Linked DNA regions of Homo sapiens: all the other regions are linked to region 1. Evidence: fine-mapped expression QTL. A gene starts in region 1. Each other region holds a variant in brackets. All regions are shown on one strand. Distances are between the middles of the regions.

Evidence for each region.
Region 2: its variant is fine-mapped to the expression of PRKG2 in tibial nerve (GTEx, PIP 0.94).
Region 3: its variant is fine-mapped to the expression of PRKG2 in blood mononuclear cells (TOPMed, PIP 0.92).

Annotation. Positions count from the first base shown.
Region 1 is chr4:81,211,663-81,219,849 of GRCh38, reverse strand. PRKG2 (protein kinase cGMP-dependent 2) reads left to right here and starts at 4,628. Exons shown (of 19, transcript NM_006259.3): 1 at 4,628-4,914. LOC124900726 (a long non-coding RNA gene) reads right to left here and starts at 4,964. Exons shown (of 2, transcript XR_007058162.1): 1 at 4,892-4,964; 2 at 3,626-4,285. RefSeq lists enhancers at 4,595-5,095, 5,096-5,596.
Region 2 is chr4:81,252,659-81,260,845 of GRCh38, reverse strand. No RefSeq gene overlaps it. Among named protein-coding and RNA genes, the nearest start is that of PRKG2, 42 kb to the right of the region's middle. The variant G/C (reference allele first, on the strand shown) is at 4,697.
Region 3 is chr4:81,149,067-81,157,253 of GRCh38, reverse strand. It overlaps PRKG2 (protein kinase cGMP-dependent 2), which reads left to right. Exons shown (of 19, transcript NM_006259.3): 7 at 3,533-3,610; 8 at 5,200-5,294. Among named protein-coding and RNA genes, the nearest start is that of PRKG2-AS1, 12 kb to the left of the region's middle. RefSeq lists enhancers at 2,762-3,275, 3,276-3,790. The variant A/G (reference allele first, on the strand shown) is at 3,120.

The DNA.
Region 1 (8,187 bases):
TTTTTTAAAGAAGATAGTAGATTAAAGAGTGAAAATTTTAAATTATTTTTTAAATAATGAAGAGACTTGAGCTGGGTATGTTCTGGAGATATAAGCATTGATACAACAAAGTCCCTGCTCTGAAGTCTAATAAGGGAGATTGGCAAGTTAACAAGGATTTGTAACTTGGAGCACCATGTTGCTGTGGGGTCATGGGAGAGAAGCACTATCCTTCATGGTCAGCAAGACTTCATGGAAGAGGTATTGAGGTAAATAAAGGGATTGTGGGCTGCACGGAGCTTAGATAACATGAAAATTTGGGTGGATCCAATTGGCCCAGTTTTATAACCATATTGAGTGATGCTGGAACCTGGACAACAAAAGCATCAAAGGCAAATGGGATTTTCTCTTGGCTAGGGTTTGGCAAAACCAATCAGAAAGGAGGGCACTATGACTTGAGGTTCTAGCCTTAGCAACTGAAATGGCTGCTCATGGAGTTAGTGTGGTAGGATAAGGAAGCCTGAAGATAAATGAAAGAATAAAAGAGGGAAGGAAAGAAAACCAAAGACATGGTGAGAAAATGGAGTGTGAATCACCAGCATGGGAGTTTTGTCCCTCTTATGTCCCCAGGAGATTTTCTGCTGATCCATAGAAGGGACCTCAGTTGGGCCTTGGAGGGCTCCAAGCTGGAATTAAAGATTATGAGCACAAGGCTGATCTGATGGGGTGCCCTGACAGGAGTCTGTGTGCAAAGGTAACTATAGAGCCTCCTGTGTGGAAATTTATCCCAAGAAAATAAGATTGGCATGGGATGATCCTGAACTCAAATTGAGTCATCCAGGGGCTTGGGAGTCTGAATTAAGTATGGAAACATTACTGGATCTCTTCCTAGCTCAGCCTCTTGGATGCAGGTCCCTGCAAGAAACAGAAAGTGGGCAAAACCGGGAGGTTTCTGTGAAACACTTGGGCTGCTTGGGGACTTTTCTGTGTATAAAACAAGGGAAGACAGGCCTTTTATCATCCCCATTTCCATAGGCTACCTCTGAACTTTGACAATGTGAGAACTCTGGTGCTCTGGTGACAGTGCTTAGCAGAGACCAGGAGACCTAGTGGAGCAGAGGCTTACCTAGTAGGAGGAGGATTAGTCATGAGTATGTCCCACATCGCCCATGTGCTTAGATTAACATTGCAGACGGGCCTCTGAGGGGCCTGTGTTCTTCAGTCAATGGCAAAGAAAGGCCAGTGGATTTTAATTTCTCGTTGTCTTTGTACAGGTAGAAGAAGTCAAGATTTTAGGGTCTGGAATTATATAGACTGGCTCTGCAACTTATTAGCTCTGTGAATTTGATCAAAGTTACTTAACTCTCTGAGTTTCCTTCCTCAGGTGTGCTTACCTCCTCAGGTCAAAGGAGTAAATGAGAAATTACATGGAAGCCTTTAACTCATGACACAGAGTCCAACATCACAGGCCAGATTCCTTCAGCCTGAAGGTGCTTCCTCCTCACTCCCTGTCTCACTCTTACTCATCTTAAGTTTAAATGCCCTCCACTTTTTTTTTTTCCAGAGAGACATTATTCTTGAGCCCCTGTAGCAGACTCTAGATTGCCTACCCAGCATCCATTGCCACCCTCTCCTTTTTATTCGGGTATGCACTTCTCAAAGAATGCAATCGGGAAGAGTTAGGAACCAGTCCTGCAGAGCCTAAGAGGCTGGGAATGGTGATTCTCCCCTCCACCTCCAGCATTTAGGTGTGAGCACATGCTTAGTTTGGATTAATGACAGGTGAGAAGTCTCCTGGAAGCTTCCAAGAACGATTTCCCGACTCTGGAAAAGAGAATCTCTGTGACCTTTGGGCACTGTTGGGATTGCCCATAATAAATGGAGTTGTTCCAGTCATCCTGGGGCCATGGGTGGAGCAGCCCCAGGGGACAAAGCTGCCATACTGGGAATGGCAGGGGGAATAACGGGAACAGGCCAGGGCCTTCCCAGACACAACTGTGTTCCTGAATTCACCAACTAGAGCCTCCTGACCTTGGAACTTCTTGCCTTGTGAAACAGTAAGTTTCCTTATAATTTAAGCCATTCTAAATTGGGTTAATTATTAATTGCAGCCTCCCACATCTAAATTATAACCCCATATTTTTTTCTCTCATTTTCCTTCACAGTATTTCTCCCACATATGCTTACTTTTGTGTTTACTTATTTAATGTCTGTTTCTCTCACTGGATTGTACACTCTAAGTTGGCAGAGATCACAAGTTAATTTTGTTCACCATTGAATTCTAAGTATTTAGCACTGGGCCTGAGATGCAGGAGCTGCTGAAAGCACATTTGTTGAAAGACTGAATTAAAAGCTCAAAAAGTGGTCACTTTCCTTCTCTTCCTCCGTTTCCTTGTTCAGCATGGTAGAGTTGTAGATTTGACAGAGCATAGGATTGCTGGGAGGGAACTTAGGTTCCCCCTCAAACTCTTCCTAGCTGGGTGACCCTGGGCAACAGCCTGCACTGCATCGACAGCTTTCAAGCTTTTACCTCAATGAACGGTAAGAAAGTACATATGACCCAGTTGACCCAGTGTGCGTGCATACTCTGCTATTTTTTATTCTATTTGGTATCATTTTAAAAATGCTGGCTTTGACCCAGTACATCAATTTTATAATCCATTAATTAGCAACCCATTGTTTAAAAAAGCCCAGGACTCAATGAAATGTAAGGACTTTGCAGCATTATTCACAATAGCAAAATCATGGAGTCAACCTACGTGTCCATTAAGGGGTGATTGGATTTATAAATGTGGTTTTATATTATATATATACACATATATATATATATATATATATACAAAATATATACACACACACTATGGTGGTATACACACACATACACTGTGTACCTATCACCTGAAAAACTGGGAAAATTTTTTTTTGATTCAGGGGTACTACACACACACACACACACACACACACACACACACACACACAATGGAATACTACCCAGCCACAAAAACAATGAAATCATATCTTTTGCAGCAACATGGATGGAACTAGAGGCCATTATCCTAAGTGAAATTACTCAGAAACAAAGTCAAAAACTGCAGAATCTCTTATAAGTGGCAGCTAAACAATGGGCAGGCATGAGTATCCAGAATGGAATAACAGACACTGGGGACTCCAATAGGTGGGAGGGTGGGAGGTGGGTGAGGTAGGAATTACAACTTATTAGGTACAGTGCACATTATTAGGGTAATAGGTGCGCTAAAAGCCCAGACCTCACCACTATGTGTTATGTCCGTGTAATGCGACTGCACTTGTACCCCTGAATCTGAAATTTTTTTTTAAAGTGAAGACTTTGAAAATCTGTTTTTCTCCTTTTTGTCATTAAATCGCTAATAAAAATTCAGCCCATCAACTTAAAAGTCCATTATTACAGTGACATACAATTACTTATTTTCTCTTTTCTTGTGGAATTCTTCCTCACTCCTTTCTCCTCTAATTTTTTTTTTTTTGAGGTCTTTATAAAATGTACAGACTCTGGGATAGCTTCATGAAAAGGTACTTTGTGTACTTTCGCGATTTTCCTCCAGTTAGCACAAAAACAAACAGGACTATATTCCTCCTCCTCTGAAACTTAATGGTCTCATTCAACATATTTTACATGGGCCTCATTTTTAATATAAGTTTATGTATGTAACAGTGTATACAAATGTTACATGAGCCCCACTGCCACCATGTGGTTTAAAAACCCAAGAGAGTTGGTTGTAACATTCTCTAGATGCACAGTGAGGAATAGACCCTCACTATACTTTCCATCTCTCAACACAGAAACTGCCCTTGTCCTCCGTGAATTTGCTGGTGAAATTCCTCTGGGGGCAGAAGGAAAGGGAAAAAGCCACATGGAGATCTCACAACTCCAGAGCACAGCAAATAATGCGGTGGGGTGTACATATATATTTAGGAAACCATATTGCACCCTTCAGGAAAAAAAAATGTACTCAAAAGGTGACGAGAGAGCATTATCTTCTTGGGTGATCAAGAAAGCTCCCTTCCCAAAGACCTGCAGATTCGGAAGGTATAATCTCTGTCCCTCGAAACTCGATTCAACCCCTGCCCCCAGCATCACGTGAACTGGCAAACTAGATGTAAGTTATGGCCCCAGAGTCCGGGAGGGGCGCGTCGACGAGCTGCTTCGGGGTCACATGTCTTCGTAGAAAGGCATTGGTGTGACAGAGGAGGGCATGTCCAGGGTACGTGCGCCTGTTTGAGCTCTGGGAGGGAAGGCGAAGTGGAGAGAGCCTGCAGTGAAAACAGACTGGAAGGATGGAGGAAAGGGAGGGGAAGGAAAAAATGAACACCTCCCTGAACTTTCCTCTCCCCTCGTCCCACACACTTGAAATAGAAATAATAACATGAACAAAAATGCTTACAACCACGATGTTATCGCCCTACTTAAGTTGCCTCACTATGGAGGGTATGGGGTATAAAGTGCAGACTGCGGCTGTGTCGGGAGTAAAGGTTCGGGCTAGTGTGCGTGCGGGCGCGGGTGACCCCACCTTTAGGGAAGCCGGCGCCCAACTATCCAGGCAGTAGCCCCGGCTGACCCCCTCCCTCCTCCTTCCCTCCTCTCTTCCCTCCCTCCCTGCGTGTCTCCTCTGCACCGGCCCCCGCCGCGGAGCCAGGCGGCAGCACCGACGCCGCCGCAGCTCCTGCCCGCATCGCGCTAACCCGCGCCCCCGGCTCACACGTAGCCGGAGCGACTGAGCCGGCAGCCCCGGGCCCACGCTGCGCACCGTGTGCACGGCGGGGCTGGCTGAGCTGACCTGCGCTGGGCTCCGGCGCCGCAGGCGGCTGGGGAGGGCGGCGTGGGAGAGGACGCTGAGACGCAGGGGCGGCCGCGCCGAGGTGACAAGCTGCGCACCTGGAAAGTTACCCGGCTGTCTGGTGAGGTTCGTGGGCCGGGGGTCTTGGGCGCCGGGGTGTGAGGGCGCGCGGGGAGGGACGGGGTCGGGGTGCGCGCGTGTGCATGCTGTGAATGCGTTGCGCGATGTGCGCCTCTATTCCACACCCAGCCGGTCTCTTGCTTGTGCTGTTCGAGTGTGGACGTGTGTACGCGTTGCATTCGCTCGGTGTGGCAGCGTTTCGTGAGCTCCTGGAGGCAGGGAAAGGCTACTTGTGTTTAGAGGTTCTGTTGAGGGCGGGAGGGGCTCAGCCCCAGTGGGGAGTCCTCAGGGTTCTCTAGGTTTAGCGAGGAGAAGCGGTGGAGGCTGTTGCTCCGAGCTAGGGGCTTGGCGGTGCTGTCAGGGCTTGCGCTCCCGGCTTTGCTTCGTCGAGCTCTGGGTAGTTGCTAGGGGACAGTCCTCAGGCAAGGACTTTTAGGAGTCCTGGTAAACTTGTGTGGGTGTCCTTTTGTCACTCTGGGCACCGTGAGGCGCTTTCATATTTCTGTATTTCTCGGTGATGAAGAAACAAGAGCAAACAAAGCCCAGAAACCAGCCACTTTGGGGATGAGAAAAAAAGAAATAGGTTCAGTTCTGAGAAGAACTACGGTGCAACTACGAAGCAGCTGAGGCCAGAGCTGACAATAAAAGCAACGCATGCAGAATTAGTAGGTAGGAAGGGTGACGCTGGGACAAATGCCTTGATTTCCTGATCTTCATCTTGTTCCCCAAGTTCCCAGGGGCTTTTTCCTTCTTCTTCTTCTCCTTCTTTTTTTTTTTTTTTTTAAGGAAGAGAGCAACATACACCTGCCCCCACCCCACCACACCCCCATATTTAGAGTTTCTTAGAAATTGTCTCTTTTCTTTGCAAGTTTCTATTTAACTCATGAAGAAGGCGATCATCCCACATAACATACACTAGCTGTTTTCAGTACTCCTGTTTAGTTTTGCACAGGAGGGTATGAGCTAATATGGTAGAGAATTCTCTATGGAGAATTAGAGTGCATCCTCTCCGTTGGAACGCTGTATGACTAAGAATAAACGACCTGAAAAGATGATGCCCAGGGATCTTTCTCTTTTACGTGAAATCCTTAACTCCAGTTCTATGAAGTCATTACAAGTGAGGCTAATGAGAATTCACCTCACAGTGAAGGCATATGTTGCCTGGCTGTTGCCCAAGTCCTGTGATCCCTTATTGTCTTGCTTCCTCTAGGCTATTTTTCCTATGAATTATCTCTTCTTCTCCCATGTTTTCGTTTTTCATATCTCCTGTGCTTCATTATCCTGGAGCTACAGACATTTTCAAATTTTCATTATTTTAAAAATCCCTCACATGAATCATGATATCGTCTTGCAGGCTCTACTCTTAGTGTCAGCTCTTTCCATGGTCCCTTGTAGTTGAGTGTCTATCCCCACTCTTTGACAAATCAGATTCAGCACTTTTCTCTCTGATCTCATTTGCTGTGACAGGCCTGTGGGATGTGAGGTACAGCCTGCTCACCTCTTAAGGATCTTATCTGCATGGCCTTTCTGATGCTTCTCCTAAATCTCTTATTGGTACACGTGTTCCTTCTCCTTTGTGGTTTGCTTCTCCTCCTCTTCTCCCACAAATAATATCCACAGATATTACCTATATGTTCATAGGTAACAATAGAGACATTCCTTTCTTACCTCCCTTAGTGATCTCATCTACAAATGGTACTTCAAGTCTTCTATGGAGCAATCTCTTCCCTTGAGTTTTCTTTTTTGCTTCTACCTGCTAGACATTTGCATCATGATGACCCACAAGCATCTCAAACTCAATATATGTAAATCCAGACTCATTACTGTCTTTTCAAAGCATGCTCATTCTCCTGACTTCTGTCAGTGCCACAGTGTCTAGCCCATACACGGTGCCCTATGTGTTCTTTTTGAATGACTGAATGAATGAAGAGTAGATAGTAATACTTTCCTTCAAGCCTCCTAAGATCAAAACATTGAAATCATTTTGATTGCCCTCCCATGCACATCCATTTAATTACTACATTAGAGATGCTATCCTGCAGTGTTCCTCCTACTCACCCTCTTCTAATATTAATCTCTTCACATCCTCTCTCACTTTAACCAAAGCAGTACCTTCTTACCATATCTTACAGTTTTCTTTCCAACCTCATATAGACCTAGACACTCTCCTCTCCTCATCGCTAATATCCTGGGCACTTGCCTCCAATTCATCAACTTCAGCCTCTATTTATGTATCAATAACTGCTTAATATTTTCAGCTTTCCTCTTTCTTTAGCTTTTCTTGTCCCTCATTTCTTACTGCTCACTAAACTTCTCTACTTAAAGTTTCCACTGGTGCTTCAAACTGAGTATATCCAAAATTAAACTCACTGTCCTATCCCTCAAATCTGCTCCTCATTTTGGTCAATGACATTACCTTTTACCCAGTTGCCACAGTATAAACTTTCAAATCCTCATCGTCTTTCTTCTTGCCACCACTCAAAAATTCTGTCAGCTATAATCTTCTGACCTAGACTTACAGACCTACATTTCTGTGTGTTTGCTTGTTTATCTGTTAATGTAGCCCCCCAAATAGCTGAATTTGGCAGTCAAATATAGGATAGTGGCATTCATAAAATTCACCGCGAACATTCTGCTGGGGGGGTGGGAGGGAGGCACTTTAAAGAGATAACCAACCTCCAGAGTAGCTGCAACTTTGGTACAACAAGGTCATATGATTTCCTGTCAAGAGAAAGTTTTTCTCCAGCCAGGATGCTGTGGACAGAGAAAACAAGCAGTAGATTCCAAACTGAGCCCCGGGTCAACAGTCACAAGGTTGGATGGACAGATGCTTTTAATTGTGGCATTAATGTGAAAGTGAGCTGTTTCTCACAAGGACAACAACTCTGTGTGGTTTGCTTCAGGGAGAAGAATCAGGGATTTATATATTCAATTATTTTCTAAAGGAACTTTAGAGAGACAAGCTAATGGTAACATCAAATGTATCAGTTTCCTATCCACCTAGAATATTATCTGTAGAAGTCTGTATAATTCACTCCTCTGATTTCCAGCTGAACTGCCCATTATCATTAAAAAATCAATTCTGGTTTCCATGATTTATTGAAGGGAAGGACATTGCAGTGTTACATATAGCTGTAACTTTTATTGAATCTCATATGGCAATGTTTTTCTCTCTGGCTACCACGGAGATGGTCAATTTTTTTCTTGAGTTCAAGAAGTTCAAGTCATTAAATAGTGTTGGGACTCTGAGCTTTAATCCTTAAACTATCACCTC
Region 2 (8,187 bases), 41 kb before region 1:
ACTGGCTCCCTCCATTAGGCCTCCCCACCACAGCACCTTCCCCAGTGTCTCATGTCTGGACTGGAGTAGCGTTGGGCAGACAAATTAGCCCAGTTCCTCCGCAGGACTGTAACTAGGGAATGAAACATCAGTCTCCACTTCCTGCCGTCACCCTAAATCCTACCAGAAATCTTGTGGGGCTACCCACAAGATTGAGGGAGGAAAAAATCCCCTTTTTCCAGTAGGGGGAGCTGCAGGGAGGAAATAGTTTCTTTTTATTAAAAAACCCACTGTACTCCCCTAAAAGCGAACTCTATCTGGCTCCTATTTCTCATCTCATAGTGTTGCCGGATGGGAGGAGAGAAGTAGAAATGCCTTGTACTAACACCACAAGCCCTGGAAAGGTGTCTGGACTCCACTTCTCACGGTTCTTTCAGGAACTTAGCACTCTTTTCCCACTTGGCTATCGCCATAGTTGTTTTACAAGACAGAGCCTGATCCGGCACCTAATATCAGAAATTCTATTGCAAAAATAGATTTTTTAAAAAAGCTTTTATGCTTAGGAATTCAGTGTGTGAAAAATGGAGGCAATGCAACACATGAGACTTTTAAATGCTGTGTGAGAAGAGTAAATGGTAAATTTGTGGGTGGGTTTGTGCATGAAGAAGCTTGTACATAGGGAAGTCACGACTCTTCTCTTTTTTCAGCAGCGCACAGAGGTCTCTTCAGCGCTGCTTCATCACTATTCGTTTTTATCTTTACTCCCTAATCTTTTGAGGAATACTCTATCATATTTTGAAACCTTATCTTTTAGTACTCCTCTTGCTACTTGGAAAGAAAATGTAGAAGGTCAAGAAGAGAAGAAAAGCTTTGAAAAATTGTGTGATAGGTAACATCTACTCATTTTTATCCTGTTGGAAGAATCACATTCGCTTAATACATGACACTGATTCAAAACAGGTGGACATAGTTTCAGAAAAGTGGTAGGAATGTTTGAAATTTGATTCCTATCGTAATTTCTTCCTCTCTGTGAGGTCAGTACTGGTATCTGAGGGGATAGGTACATTTTACTTAGAGCTGGCTTAACACTGGGGCTGGGGTTCAAGCTTCACTGTAGAAAGATTGGAAAGAAAAAGACTAGGAAAGCAGGGAGGTAGGACTGAAGTGGTTTCTGAGGATGGCTGTGGTAAAAGGAAGGGCAGAGGAGATGGCATTTGAGAGTCACCTGGATTAAAAGGCAGGTTGAGTGGGAGAGAGGACATTGCTGAAAGGAAGGTAGTTAATTAAGCTGAATTCTGCTGTAGCAAGTCCCTGGGAAGTGCTGACATAGACTGAAGGATGATTGACTCTGGGACACAAACCACTGTATAAATTATATGAAATGAATAACACATGGGAAAGGTCTTAGACACATATGTAACATATAATGGAAATTCAATTAGTGTTGGTTTTCCTTCCCTTCCTGCTCTTGATGGTGCTACCAGGTGACACATAAAAACAGATTGTGTGAGTTTGGGTCAAAGTGTCACTGTGACAATATTGTCTCAATAGCACTTTCAATGCAGGTAAAAGTTCAATTCAATGTGTGAAATGGCTGAGTGAGAAAAATAGCAAAGTCACAGATCAGGATAGAAATAAAGCTATACCCTTACCTGGCATTGAGAATGAAATAATAGGGGTCTAGCTTCTCTTGGGAAAGTAGGAGTAAATGGAAGCCCAAACCTAGCATCTCCAGGAGCTAATCCATGAGCTAGTGACCATGACTATGAGAGGAAAACTAAGCCCAGGGAAGAATGTTGGGAAGTTGTAAAAAAAAGTCATATGATGTGGAAGTCCATGGATAATGAACCTTGACATTTGGAACATGTTCAGGTGTTAAATCCAATTTCTATCTAAGGAGGTCAGAATGCATAGGGCAATTAAAAGGGTAGTGGTAGGCAACTGCCTGCTTCTGTGTGTCCTCTGGGTATGGGCTCTTGGAATCTCTGGCTAGCTAACCTGAATCTACAGTGTCTTGATTGTTTACAATGCCTTTTTATGGTTCCTTCCTACTATGAAATGTACAACTGCTAGTGAGAGAAATGCTCAAAATGAAACTTTCCTCTTTACTAATTAATCCACTCTTCAATCTTTATTTAGATACTCAACACACATGTGCGTGAGCATGTGTGCACACACACATACAGACACAGAGTGCCAATTAAGACATGAATTTTCCACTACCTAGAAAGACCTTCATATTTCTTTGATCCTTCAGACTGAGATCAGATGTCTTTTTCTGAAGCATTCCCTGACTCCTTGCCTTAGGGTAGTTAAGCTTTCATAATGTATTGTAATATTTCAGGACTTCAGAAAACTTTGCTTTGTGTAATGGGCCTACAAGACACCCTGAAAATGATGTTGATTAATTATCTTTGTATTTATTTACAGGATGGTTGGTTGTTATTTTCTGCCACTCACAGTCAATTTTCCCTTTTATTTTGATAAGAGCATCTTATTTTCTTCTGGGAAATTTTCCCTCTTCCGTTGTGTGTACTTGATGGGGTTGCCAATCTTGGTGGGGCTGCCAATCAGCCCCACCAAGGGGTAGGCATATGAGCCATGATGGCCAATTGGACTAAAATGGAACTATTTACCTGTTTAAGCAGAAGGGGATTTATTACAGAGAATGGAGTATCCAGTAATTATTTGCAGAAAAAAATAATTGTTATATAACAAGTAACAGTCTGCAAAGAGAACTGTTAACATCAGGAAGCCACGGAAGTGGGAACCACGATGCCAACTTCTGATTGTCGTTGTAATCATTGGTACCAGAAATATGCATGTTAGCTGTGACTGACAGATAAGAAACCATGGCCACAATTGTTGGCCCCAGAGCCATGACATGCCTGCTGGGACTGCACCAACAAAATGGATGACCCATGCCATCCTCTCAATATCTAACAAGTGGCTAGCTACTGGGATTTCAGCTAAAGCTGTTGCAGAAAAATCAACCACCTTGCCATTTATGTTCTGCACCAGAAATTGCAGAAGCAGCACAAATGTGGCCTCCACCTCACTTCTGCCTTTCTGATCTCACATGAACACATGTGACTAGCTGAATATTATTAAGTACCTTCTGGAACACTGTCTGCAAACTAGACTATGGAATATAATGTTTAGCTTTCTGGCCTTAACGATGACTGAAGGGACTCTAGATGAGGGCAGAATGGATATTGAATATCAATCCACTATATAAACAATGGACTATCCCCCCAGGCTCTTGAGCCCAGTGGTTAAAGAGCAGAAGAAAAATGGTTGGAGCCAGTGGGTCCTCTTGCAATATCCTGAAGACTAGCTACCTAGATCCTCCAAATGCCCTGATTCCTGTCCTTTTAGGTTTCTGCTTTTGTAGATTTCCCTTTGGGTCTGGGAGCCCCCACCAGGACCTTATAATTATTTCCCTTTTACCTGTAGTTAGTCAGATTTGAGTTTTGACATTTGTAATCAAACCACCTCAATGGATACATTTAGGAACTTAATTGTCAGTGTTGGCATCCTCAATTCTTGCAGAATGAATTTGGTTGGCCTTAACTCTGCATCTAGAGAGCTGGCTGCTACCGATGTGAATAGCACCCTTGGAATTCTAGTTTCTAGAATCAAAAGTCAAAGAAGTCCTTGGATGTCATCCAATCCAAACTCTACTTTTTTTTTTTTTTTTTGGTTATCAGACACATTCCTTTATTATTGACATAGAAATTCTTAAGATAGTTCATGTAGACAAAAAGTACAATTATTTTAACAGCATAGAAATACCTTTGAAAGAAGAAAAGGTATATAAACAACTCTTGAAAAAAAATTTTAGATTTTAAATCGTTGCCATTATTAACTAAGAGTTTTATTGTAGAATTCATAGCCAGACTTGTCAAAATCTGTAAATATCTTATAGAAAGTTCTGTGATAAGGAAATTCATACTCAGTGGAAATGCTTTGGGGATTTTTAATGCGGAGATTGATCTTAATTTTTCAAATTACAACAGGCTTATCTATCAAAGCTTAATGAAATACAAACTTTGCGAATGATCCAGCCACAATCTTACATGCTATGCAGATTTCCAAATGCATTCCATGTCCTTCCACAAAAACACTTCCTGATGAATAATGTTTAACTTGGTCTTTTATAGTAGTGGTCCAAAGACTTTGAAAAATATTCTTAAGAAGCTACTACAGGAGCTTCCAATTTAATGAATTTTAACAGCTGTTTCTGCCACTAGGCCTATAAGTGGAACTTGATTTCCCTTGAGTCAATTCCATTAATTTGTTTTTATTATTTTAGGATAGCGAATATGCTTCAGCTGGCTGCGTTCAGAAACTAGAATTGGTGTGGGTGGCACAGCAACTCTGGTTTCAATCAGTCTTCCTCTGAGGGCTTCCCCTGAAGACCACCCAGATGGATGGGTGGTGCAAGAGCAAGCAGGGCCACAGTGTGAGTCGGGGGCACATGGCTCCATTCTGCACTCACGGGTGGGGCATTTCTGCTAAACACTTGGGAGAATTTCTCAGGAGATCAGGGCACTCAACAGTTTTCTGAAGTGGTAGAGCAATATTATTTCCTCTCAGCTTGCAAAGTGCACAGACCATCCCTCGGGTGTTTAAGCCCACACCTGCTGGAATGCACTTGGAATACAAGGTCAAAAGGACAGTGCTCAAAATGCAGCTAGGCTTCAAGGGGACGGAA[G/C]GTGACTTCAGATTCTATCTTAGTAAATTAGGGATAATAATATCTGCCCTACCAATTTCTCAGGGCTATTATATGTATAATATACAGATATAAAGACAAATATATTTTAAAAATAAATATTGCTAAGCATTTCAAATAATTTTAGACAGAGGCTAATACTAAGCTTACCTAAAAATGTTGTGCCTTACAGACCATCCCTCTCTCCCTGTGGTGAGGTTGAAGTGAGGTTTATTTTTTCCAATTATTTTATTGCCAAAGGTGAATTTCTAAAGGAGAAAAGTTAGGATATTTCCTTGAGAAATCTGAGCAATTGGGTCAGCACAGATTCTCTGAATTACTTATTTCTGATCATCAGTGCCCTTTGTCATCAGGTCATGGGCTCTATGGGAGTGCTAAGGAAAGAATCAAGTTGTACAATCATCTTGGCTCCACATGGTTTGTATTTGGTTACATCTTTATCATAACAGCTTAGTGCTTGGGTTTGCCTGACTCATAAGCTCAAGCTTTCAGAAGCTGATTACTCTGTAATGGATTGAATTGTAAATGGCATCTCAATGAGTAAAATAACTGTTATTTTCATTTTTATTTCCCCGTATCCAAACCTAATTTTTTTGTTTGATTACTGTTGCTGATTTTTGGTGTAGGCAGAGCTGGAAGATGTGGATGTGGCTAGAGGATTAAAAATATTGTTTTTTCCTGGTTTCAAATATTATATATATTTACTGTAGAAAACATGGAAAAAGCTAACAAATTATGATGAAGTTAATAGAAACATCCAAAAATGTCACCACTCAGAGTCATTCATTTGTAAGATTCTTGTTTAATTTTTTTCTTTTATTTACTATATAACTATATACTTCTTTTTTATTTAAAAAAAGTACTATTCTGTGACCTGTTTTATTGCTTGTGTTAAGCATATTTGTTCATCTGTTAAGTATTTATTGAGTGCTTTCAACTATACATTTCTAAGTCACTACAAGATATTCACCATGGTTCATGTTTTACTAACTTGTGATCAACAAAGGATGGGAGGGATATAGCTTTTTTTTTCTTTTGTATGTGTGTCACTGATTCAGCTCAATCATACATCTGAGTTATCCCTAATTGGGTTTCTAAAGACTCTTAAATTTGAAGAATTCATAAAAATCAGCAGGTATGATCATTGTTTTTGTCAGTGAGTATGTGAGTCACTTTTATATTAATTTTTTTCAACTTAAAGAATGACTAGCCATCACTACTGAGTATGTAAAGAATCTGTAGTACAATAGATAAATACCTCATGGCAACAAACTCTCTTTTCTACAACTTTAATACTTTTAAATCATACAATATTTTTATAAAAAATTATCAGAAAAACCATTATGTCCACTTTTTCCTTTATAGTCAATACATTCAACAAACATTTTAAAGAACCTTTAACATACAAGACACTGAGCAGGAGAATACATGATTCTTAATCATTGAGAGTTTACATTCTAGTTGGGGACTGTATTAGTCTGCCCAGGCTGCCATAACTAACAGAACACCACAGACTGAGTGGCTTAAAGAACAGAAATTCATTTCTCACAATTCTAAAAGCTAGAAGTCCCAGATCAAGGTGTTGGCGGATTCAGTTTCTGGTGAGGCCTCTCTTTCTGGCTTGTAGATGGCCTCCTTCTTGCTGTGTCCTTTTCTCTGGGTACACAGGGACAGGAAGGGAGAGGGAGGCGGGAGAGAGAGAGAGAGAGAGAGACAGAGATCTCTGGTGTCTCTTCTTCTTTTAAGAACACTAGTCATATCAGATTAAGGTCCCATGCTTATGACCTCATTTAATCTTAAGTACTTCCCTAAAAGTCTTATATCCAAATACAATCATTGGGGGTTAGGACAACATATGAATTTTAGGGGGACACAGTTCACAGGGAACCAGTCATGAATATAATTGTCTAACTTTTAAATGGTGCCATATGAAGATATAAATGAAGTGCTATACTTAATTTTGATTGGGGACTGAGGTTCCCAATCAAAGCTTCACAGATGAATTAGCATTTTAGTTTGTCTTAGACACAGACCCTGATATGAAGATTCATGTGCAAGCGAAGAAGTGCTCCCAGAAGAAACTAGTAAGGAAAGGGGTGAAGCAGAACAGGGAACAGAAAGAAGCCAAGCATAAGGGTGAGATTTCAGGCAAAGTCCTGGAGAGGCAGTTTTAGCCTGATATTGCAGGAGGACCCTAGAGTTTTGAGTTTTACCTTAGGGTTGGCCTGAGTCAAAGGAAAGTGAGCTTGATTTTTATGCTCCTGTACCAGTCAGTCAGGGGCTAAGGGCTGCCCTGGGGTGAGGCTGGGGAGAGGGGGCAGGACATAAACTCCCAGGCCCTCTGAGCTCTGCTTCTATGAGCACAATGGCTCCAGCAGTTTCAGGACAGTCCTGTGAAGTGAGTTATAGGTACAAGCTATTAGAAGCACAAGCTGAGAGGCCAGGAGAAACACAAACAGCAGTGGTAAAAGAGATCTGAGAGGCTATGGGTGAAACATTGACTGCGTTCTCTACAGTGATGGGCATTGAAAGGAAAGAGTAGAATTTCAACAGATTTGAAAATAGGAAAGAAGATTCTAGACCTGTGCTGTCCAATATATTAGTCTCCAGTCATATATGACTAGTGGCTTCTGTATTGGACCATGTAGATATAGAACATGTCCCTCAACAGAAAATGTTCTATTAGACAACACTCTATCTAGACTAAGGATAGTATGAATAAAATTACAGAAAGGTGAAGGAGGAAGTAGTTTACTAGGAATATATGACCAAGATAGTTGACCAAAACATAGACTGTGATCAAATTACAAAAAGCTTTAGAAGCATTGATCCATTAATTGTAGCATTTAAAAAATAGACATTGTTCAATGGGAACTTACTATTTTAAGGGCTCACCCTAAAAGTATATGTAAAAGTTGGAGTACCTCGTTTGCAATCCTGTATGGCCTCCATACCTGGCCTTATACTAGGTTTCTTTGTACCTTTAGTTGAAGACATTGTCTCTTATTTGGTCTTCTGACCACTCTTTTCCTTTACCTGGCCTCTTCTTCAGCCATTACTCCATCACTCGTTCCATTGCCTCCTCTCTTAGATCTAGGCTTGAATCTTTAATCCTGATTCTGCAGAGTTTAGATTTCCTACCTAGCGTTTTGAATTTCCTACTCTTTCTTATCAACTTTCTCCCACTTAGTCCCAATTGCATATAAATCCCCACTTGTATGTATAAAAGACTAGAAAATGTTAGGAGGTAGAATGAGGCAAAATCAGGTTAATGGATTCTGGAGTCCTGAGCATGTAGATAGACTATGGGCAAACAGTCAGAGGAGATAGAGAAATGAATGAAACAAAATAGAGGGGAGATAATAAATGGAATAAGAAAACGTTAGAGAGCAAGCTTTTCTGTATTGTTGAAAATAATCTCTGCCTTGATTTCTAGGGGAAAGATTGTATTCCCCATCTACACTGTCTGCATT
Region 3 (8,187 bases), 63 kb after region 1:
GGTGATATCCCCTTTATCATTTTTTATTGCATCTATTTGATTCTTCTCTCTTTTTTTCTTTATTAATCTTGCTAGTGGTCTATCAATTTTGTTGATCCTTTCAAAAAACCAGCTCCTGGATTCGTTAATTTTTGGAAGGGTTTTTTGTATCTCTATTTCCTTCAGTTCTGCTCTGATTTTAGTTATTTTTTGCCTTCTGCTAGCCTTTGAATGTGTTTGCTCTTGCTTTTCTAGTTCTTTTAATTGTGATGTTAGGGTGTCAATTTTGGATCTTTCCTGCTTTCTCTTGTGGGCATTTAGTGCTATAAATTTCCCTCTACACACTGCTTTGAATGCATCCCAGAGATTCTGGTATGCTGTGTCTTTGTTCTTGTTGGTTTCAAAGAACATCTTTATTTCTGCCTTCATTTCGTTATGTACCCAGTAGTCATTCAGGAGCAGGTTGTTCAGTTTCCATGTAGTTGGCGGTTTTGAGTGAGATTCTTAATCCTGAGTTCTAGTTTGATTGCACTGTGGTCTGAGAGATAGTTTGTTATAATTTCTGTTCTTTTACATTTGCTGAGGAGAGCTTTACTTCCAAGTATGTGGTCAATTTTGGAGTAGGTGTGGCGTGGTGCTGAAAAAAATGTATATTCTGTTGATTTGGGGTGGAGAGTTCTGTAGATGTCTATTAGGTCAGCTTGGTGCAGAGCTGAGTTCAATTCCTGGGTATTCTTGTTGACTTTCTGTCTCGTTGATCTGTCTAATGTTGACGGTGGGGTGTTAAAGTCTCCCATTATTAATGTGTGGGAGTCTAAGTCTCTTTGCAGGTCATTCAGGACTTGCTTTATGAATCTGGGTGCTCCTGTATTGGGTGCATATATATTTAGGATAGTTAGCTCTTCTTGCTGAATTGATCCCTTTACCATTAAATAATGGCCTTCTTTGTCTCTTTTGATCTTTGTCGGTTTAAAGTCTGTTTTATCAGAGACTAGGATTGCAACCCCTGCCTTTTTTTGTTTTCCATTTGCTTGGTAGATCTTCCTCCATCCTTTTATTTTGAGCCTATGTGTGTCTCTGCCTGTGAGATGGGTTTCCTGAATACAGCACACTAATGGGTCTTGACTCTTTATCCAATTTGCCAGTCTGTGTCTTTTAATTGGAGCATTTAGTCCATTTACGTTTAAAGTTAACATTGTTATGTGTGAATTTGATCCTGTCATTATGATGTTAGCTGGTTATTTTGCTCGTTAGTTGATACAGTTTCTTCCTAGTCTCGATGGTCTTTACATTTTGGCATGATTTTGCAGTGGCTGGTACCGGTTGTTCCTTTCCATGTTTAGTGCTTCCTTCAGGAGCTCTTTTAGGGCAGGCCTGGTGGTGATGAAATCTCTCAGCATTTGCTTGTCTGTAAAGGATTTTATTTCTCCTTCACTTATGAAGCTTAGTTTGGCTGGATATGAAATTCTGGGTTGAAAATTCTTTTCTTTAAGAATGTTGAATATTGGCCCCCACTCTCTTCTGGCTTGTAGAGTTTCTGCCGAGAGATCTGCTGTTAGTCTGATGGGCTTCCCTTTGAGGGTAACCCGACCTTTCTCTCTGGCTGCCCTTAACATTTTTTCCTTCATTTCAACTTTGGTGAATCTGACAATTATGTGTCTTGGTGTTGCTCTTCTCGAGGAGTATCTTTGTGGCGTTCTCTGTATTTCCTGAATCTGAATGTTGGCCTGCCTTGCTAGATTGGGGAAGTTCTCCTGGATAATATCCTGCAGAGTGTTTTCCAACTTGGTTCCGTTCTCCCCATCACTTTCAGGTACACCAATCAGACGTAGATTTGGTCTTTTCACATAGTCCCATATTTCTTGGAGGCTTTGCTCGTTTCTTTTTATCTTTTTTCTCTAAACTTCCCTTCTCGCTTCATTTCATTCATTTCATCTTCCATTGCTGATACCCTTTCTTCCAGCTGATCGCATCGGCTCCTGAGGCTTCTGCATTCTTCACGTAGTTCTCGAGCCTTGGTTTTCAGCTCCATCAGCTCCTTTAAGCACTTTTCTGTATTGGTTATCCTAGTTATACATTCTTCTTTTTTTTTTTTTTGAGACGGAGTCTCGCTCTGTCGCCCAGGCTGGAGTGCAGTGGCGGGATCTCGGCTCACTGCAAGCTCCGCCTCCCGGGTTCACGCCATTCTCCTGCCTCAGCCTCCCAAGTAGCTGGGACTACAGGCGCCCGCCACTACGCCCGGCTAATTTTTTTTTTGTATTTTTAGTAGAGACGGGGTTTCACCGTGTTAGCCGGGATGGTCTCGATCTCCTGACCTCGTGATCTGCCCGCCTCGGCCTCCCAAAGTGCTGGGATTACAGGCGTGAGCCACCGCGCCCGGCCTATACATTCTTCTAAATTTTTTTCAAAGTTTTCAACTTCTTTGCCTTTGGTTTAAATGTCCTCCCGTAGCTCAGAGTAATTTGATCGTCTGAAGCCTTCTTCTCGCAGCTCGTCAAAGTCATTCTCCGTCCAGCTTTGTTCTGTTGCTAGTGAGGAACTGCGTTCCTTTGGAGGAGGAGAGGCGCTCTGCTTTTTAGAGTTTCTAGTTTTTCTGCTCTGTTTTTTCCCCATCTTTGTGGTTTTATGTACTTTTGGTCTTTGATGATGGTGATGTACAGATGGGTTTTTGCTGTGGATGTCCTTTCTGTTTGTTAGTTTTCCTTCTAACAGACAGGACCCTCAGCTGCAGGTCTGTTGGAGTACCCTGCCGTGTGAGGTGTCAGTGTGCCCCTGCTGGGGGGTGCCTCCCAGTTAGGCTGCTCGGGGGTCAGGGTCAGGGACCCACTTGAGGAGGCAGTCTGCCCGTTCTCAGATCTCCAGCTGCGTGCTGGGAGAACCACTGCTCTCTTCAAAGCTGTCAGACAGGGACATTTAAATCTGCAGAGGTTACTGCTGTCTTTTTGTTTGTCTGTGCCCTGCCCCCAGAGGTGGAGCCTACAGAGGCAGGCAGGCCTCCTTGAGCTGTGGCGGGCTCCACCCAGTTTGAGCTTCCTGGCTGCTTTGTTTACCTAAGCAAGCCTGGGCAATGGCGGGCGCCCCTCCCCGAGCCTCGCTGCTGCCTTGCAGTTTGATCTCAGACTGCTGTGCTAGCAATCAGC[A/G]AGACTCCGTGGGCGTAGGACCCTCCGAGCCAGGTGCGGGGATATAATCTCGTGGTGCGCCGTTTTTTTAAGGCCGTCCCAAAAGCGCGATATTCGGGTGAGAGTGACCCGATTTTCCAGGTGCTGTCCATCACCCCTTTCTTTGACTAGGAAAGGGAACTCCCTGACCCCTTGTGCTTGCTGAGTGAGGCAATGCCTCGCCCTGCTTCGGCTCGCGCACGGTGCGCGCACCCACTGACCTGTGCCCACTGTCTGGCACTCCCTAGTGAGATGAACCCGGTACCTCAGATGGAAATACAGAAATCACCCGTCTTCTGCGCCGCTCACGCTGGGAGCTGTATACTGGAGCTGTTCCTATTAGGCCATCTTGGCTCCACCCGCTCTTACATTTTCTTTCTCTCTCATCCCAACAGGAATACTATGACAAAGGAGATTACATCATTAGAGAGGGCGAGGAAGGAAGTACCTTTTTCATTTTGGCAAAAGGAAAGGTAACTATTAATTAAAACTTACTAAATAAAAAAGATTATTTTAAATCAGTTTGCCATAAACTCAACTATGCTTTGCATTGCAACATAGGTCCTCCACTTTGGACAGATAAAGGAGCTTCTACCAGTAGAGTCCCATGCAATTCTGTTTGAACACTGGCTTTGGAGTGGAGGCCACAGGACCCCCTAAGAAATAATAACTTCTTAGTGATGTTATGTAGGTCACTTGATTTTTTGGGGAGAGACCTAGCTTAATTGTATATGAGATGGCTGGATTATTTATAAGGTCCCTTCTGGCTATGACTATGTGATTCTCAATCATCCCCAGATTCCAAGATCAGTACTAGAATATTTTCTTATCCAATAGATATGACAAGTAGCAGGTGGAGAATGAATTCAGCAATTGAAGACAGTCATGATTAGGTATCAGGCTTATAGAACCAATATGGCTCAGAATTTCAATTGATACAAAACAGCTCAAGTGAATTTAGATGCTGATGCAAAATTTATACTAACATGTACAATAAGTCTTTTTCTTTACCTAGATATTGAATGGATAACATGTTGCCAGTTGTTCCAATGTTGACTCAACAGTATTACTCAGAGATGAAAAGCATTTGTGAAATATTGAAGGGAAGGGCCAATTCTTGAGCACCTGTGTGTATAAACTGTCAGATTTTTACATATGTTATATGGAAGGGTTTACCATCAGGGAGTCAGGCACTGCCATTTGTAAACTGGATTGTGGTTGAACTTTGAATTTGGCCCCAAGTGAAGGAAAAACATGAACAAAATAGTTTCAAACCTCTGAAACTCTTCAACACTAGGAACTACTTCTTGTCATTTTTTCCCAACCTAGACCCCATACTTTGAAATAATTCTTGGTGATAAAAAATTGCATTTTTTATTTTTAAAATTTTAATTCATTGTGACATACATAAATGCCAAACAGAATTTCTATTCAGCCTGAATCAGCACTTGTTACCATGTTGAATTGGAATAACTCTAGCCACAAACAGGGCTTTTTCTGTTTGGCCCTGCTGGGTGGGGGGTTCTTAAGCCTTTCTGGGCAACAGATTGCTTTGAGATGCCCATGAAAGTTGTAGACCCTTCTTCAATCAACATTTTGCATTCAGTTTTAGGAGGTGCACAGGATTCGGCCAGTCAATCTATTGATACCAGACTCAGAACTACTGATACTCAACCTTATTTTTGATTAATTTGTCAACTATATTAGGCTTTTTAAAATAGAAAAAGTTCCCACAAGACCATTATTATTTGCTTTGTGGATCTCTCAGAAGGAATCACTGGATTCACATTTAAAATTTAACTTTAGGAGGTGGAGTTTAGATGGTGAATTTTCCTCTTACAGTGGGTAGTTATTTGATAATATTAGACCATAGGACTTCCCACATCCATCAAAATGGGCTGAATGTAGGTAATTGTCCTAATTACCATAAAATTAAAACAAAGTATTGTCTTTTTCCTTGTCCAAGTTTATATAGGTCTAGAGGGTTTGGTTGAATGAATGTGTGTTCAGATTCTCCTTTTTCTTCAGTCTCTTTCTGTTTGTATTGCTTAACATTGTTTAGGTAAAAGTAACACAGAGCACAGAAGGCCATGATCAACCACAGCTGATAAAAACACTGCAGAAAGGAGAATACTTTGGAGAAAAAGCTCTTATCAGGTGAATTCATGAATTATATGCCATACTTTGGATAAAATGCTTCGACTATTTTTTATATAAAATCATTTAGAGTTGTTAAATTGAGCTACCAAGTTAATGGCAACAAATATCCTAATATTAAATATTTTGAAGTGATTTCTTAAATTTTTATGCGGGAAATGAGTATGCTAATTTGCAGAGGAAATAATTGGAAAATCTTAAGTTTGCTAGTGAAAATGAAATTGGTGTTCTATTAAACTTTTTAGTTTCAAAAAAGGGTCTGAGAAAAGGTTAAAAATGGAAAAATTACACTTGTATACAGATCTTTATATTCCCAACATTTGAAATATTGCCTACTTTAGAGTTTTCACCTTTTTAAAAATTACGAAATAATTTTATATATTTTGTGTGCTTTTAAATCATCAGGTCAAAAGTATTTTTCTTAAGAATTTTTATCAGCTCGTTTTGCAAGTTTTAAAAACAACTCAAAATAGTATATTTGCAATTTTTACCACAACCTTCAGTCTTGAGGTATGAGTTTATTTACTGTTGATCTAATTTATGGAAGAAATATTTTTAAAAGTTAATTAAATGGCTCGAGGGACACTTTGCATTTCCTGGAACTCATAAAACCTCAAGTCTGATCAAATGCATTTTCCTAAATATAAATAACTTTATAAAATATTAAGTTAAAGTTAGAGCAACACACTTTATTGGAATTATCTATGTTTTCAAGTTAATACTTGGAATTATTTAAGAAATCAGTTAAAATTTACATATGATTAAATGCATTTGTTTCAACTGTATGCTTTTGGAAAAGGAATAGTATTCCTGTTCATTTATCTTCTTAACCTTTGCCTATGAAACCCCAATTCTGCTGATTTGTAGATCAGGTTTACATAAGTACAGAGCAAAGAAAAAGTGTTCAGATATTACCTGAAGACAAATTTGAGTCTTTAAAAATCACAAATCTCTTAGTTTTTAAAGAAAACCAAAAAAATAAAGTTTTAGCTATTATGTAGCAATTTAAAAGTGGGATTTAAAGATAAGCTGAATTCTTCTTTACCACTTTATAGCCGGTAATGAACTTGTTTCAATATTAGGAAAATTAATATTCTTTGTGTTTATTTGTAACAGAATATAAATACATTCATGCAATATAATAATGTAATATCATTATCCAGGGCTTCAGTGTCTTTGTTCTTAACGCTTACAGATTTTCTCATACTTTCAAGCAAAACAACGGAAGCTTGAAAGTGCACAGCACTTTATAAATGCAGTATAGAGTCAAAATAGCTCTTGAAAGAAAATATGTTATTCAGTTTTGCTGGGCCTGAAATAATTTATGCTATATGTTGTGGCTAGCCAATTATAGTGTTTTCCAATAAAAAAAGCATGGGAATTTATGTTTAAGATAGACACTCAACTCCTAAAGGTGTTTGAAAGCATTAAGCTAAAATCAATGAGAAGGAAAGTTGGAGACAAATATTTTTATATTTTTGTGCCTTTTAATGCTATCACATTTTAGGGCCACTGACCGTGATTCAGTAATCCTTATATTCTGTATATTTCCATGACTTGACATTAAATAGTCCCTGGAGTTCTTTCAGAATTTTATGTGCAAAAATAAATCTATGGCACTTACACAGTTACTATGGAAGAAACATAAGTGTATTTGCATACATCTAATACTTGTAAAATGTTTGCAGAGAATATTCTCAGTCAAAATCATGATACTGACATGCAAAAGGAATACCATATGCCTTTCCTTTCTCTAAGCTCACAGATCAAATGGTTGGCCTACAATCAAGATCATGTCTGTGTCTATGTCTATGTCTATGCTTATGTCTATTTCTAGATCTGTCTGGCTCTACATCCACCATCTCTATCTCTATCTCTACCTCTACATATACAAGCACAAATTTTCCTGCTGCTGTCTCAAAGGTCCATGAAACTGAAGTGTTTTCACTGATATCTTCTAACAAGGACCCTGTAAACTTGGGAGGGACAGTGAGTTATGTCAGAAGGTCTCAGAATGTGAGCTAGGTAGATAGGGGTCTTTGAAATAGTAGAGATGGGCTGCCAGTGTTTTTCCTGTCCCATTACTAAGAGAAGGCAAAGGAAATACACTTTGTGCGATAACATTTTTGATGAAGTTGCCTAGAAGAGTCCCAAAGCATACTCCAGGGTATGCTTAGTACTCCCAAGTCATCTTAAATGAATCTCAGAGCACTGGGTGCCTTGTGGATGTACCTTTTGTGTGTGTGTCTTTTAGTTTATAACTAATAGAGGGAGGAAGCTAATATAAGTAAAGGTCTGTAAAGAAGTACTTTACCTGATACCCACTGGCATTCATTAGGTAATTAAATTTGCTACCATTGGATCATATATAATTGCAAGATGTCAATTATAAGATGCACTGCTATATTATATACACCTAAGAAAAAGAAAATGCTGCTAATTACACTACAATTTATCAATTTTAAGACATGCTCTAATTTCAGAGATTTTAATGGAAAAATATACACTTTACACTTTGAAATGAAAGTATTTTAGTATTTAATTAATTGGGTGATATGGCACTGAAACTACTTTTTTATTTTATTAATGATTGGTTGATCTTATGCTAATTACTTGACTGTTTTTCCAATACATTTCTCTGATAAGTTAATTTCAGTTTTGCCTTCTTGTTAGTGAATAGTTCTCCTTTGATCAGAGGAGAGCTATTTTATTTTGACTTTCACAAAGCTCAGAATGAGATTCCATAAACATTTGTAGTCACTTATTCTTCTCTGTTCCCAGTGCAATTATCTTCTTCTCCTCTGAATTCTTTGTGTACATAACCTCTACTGGGGCACATTTCAAATCTTTTTTTGGGGGGATATAAATTATGATGTTTAAAAGCAGCAGTTTT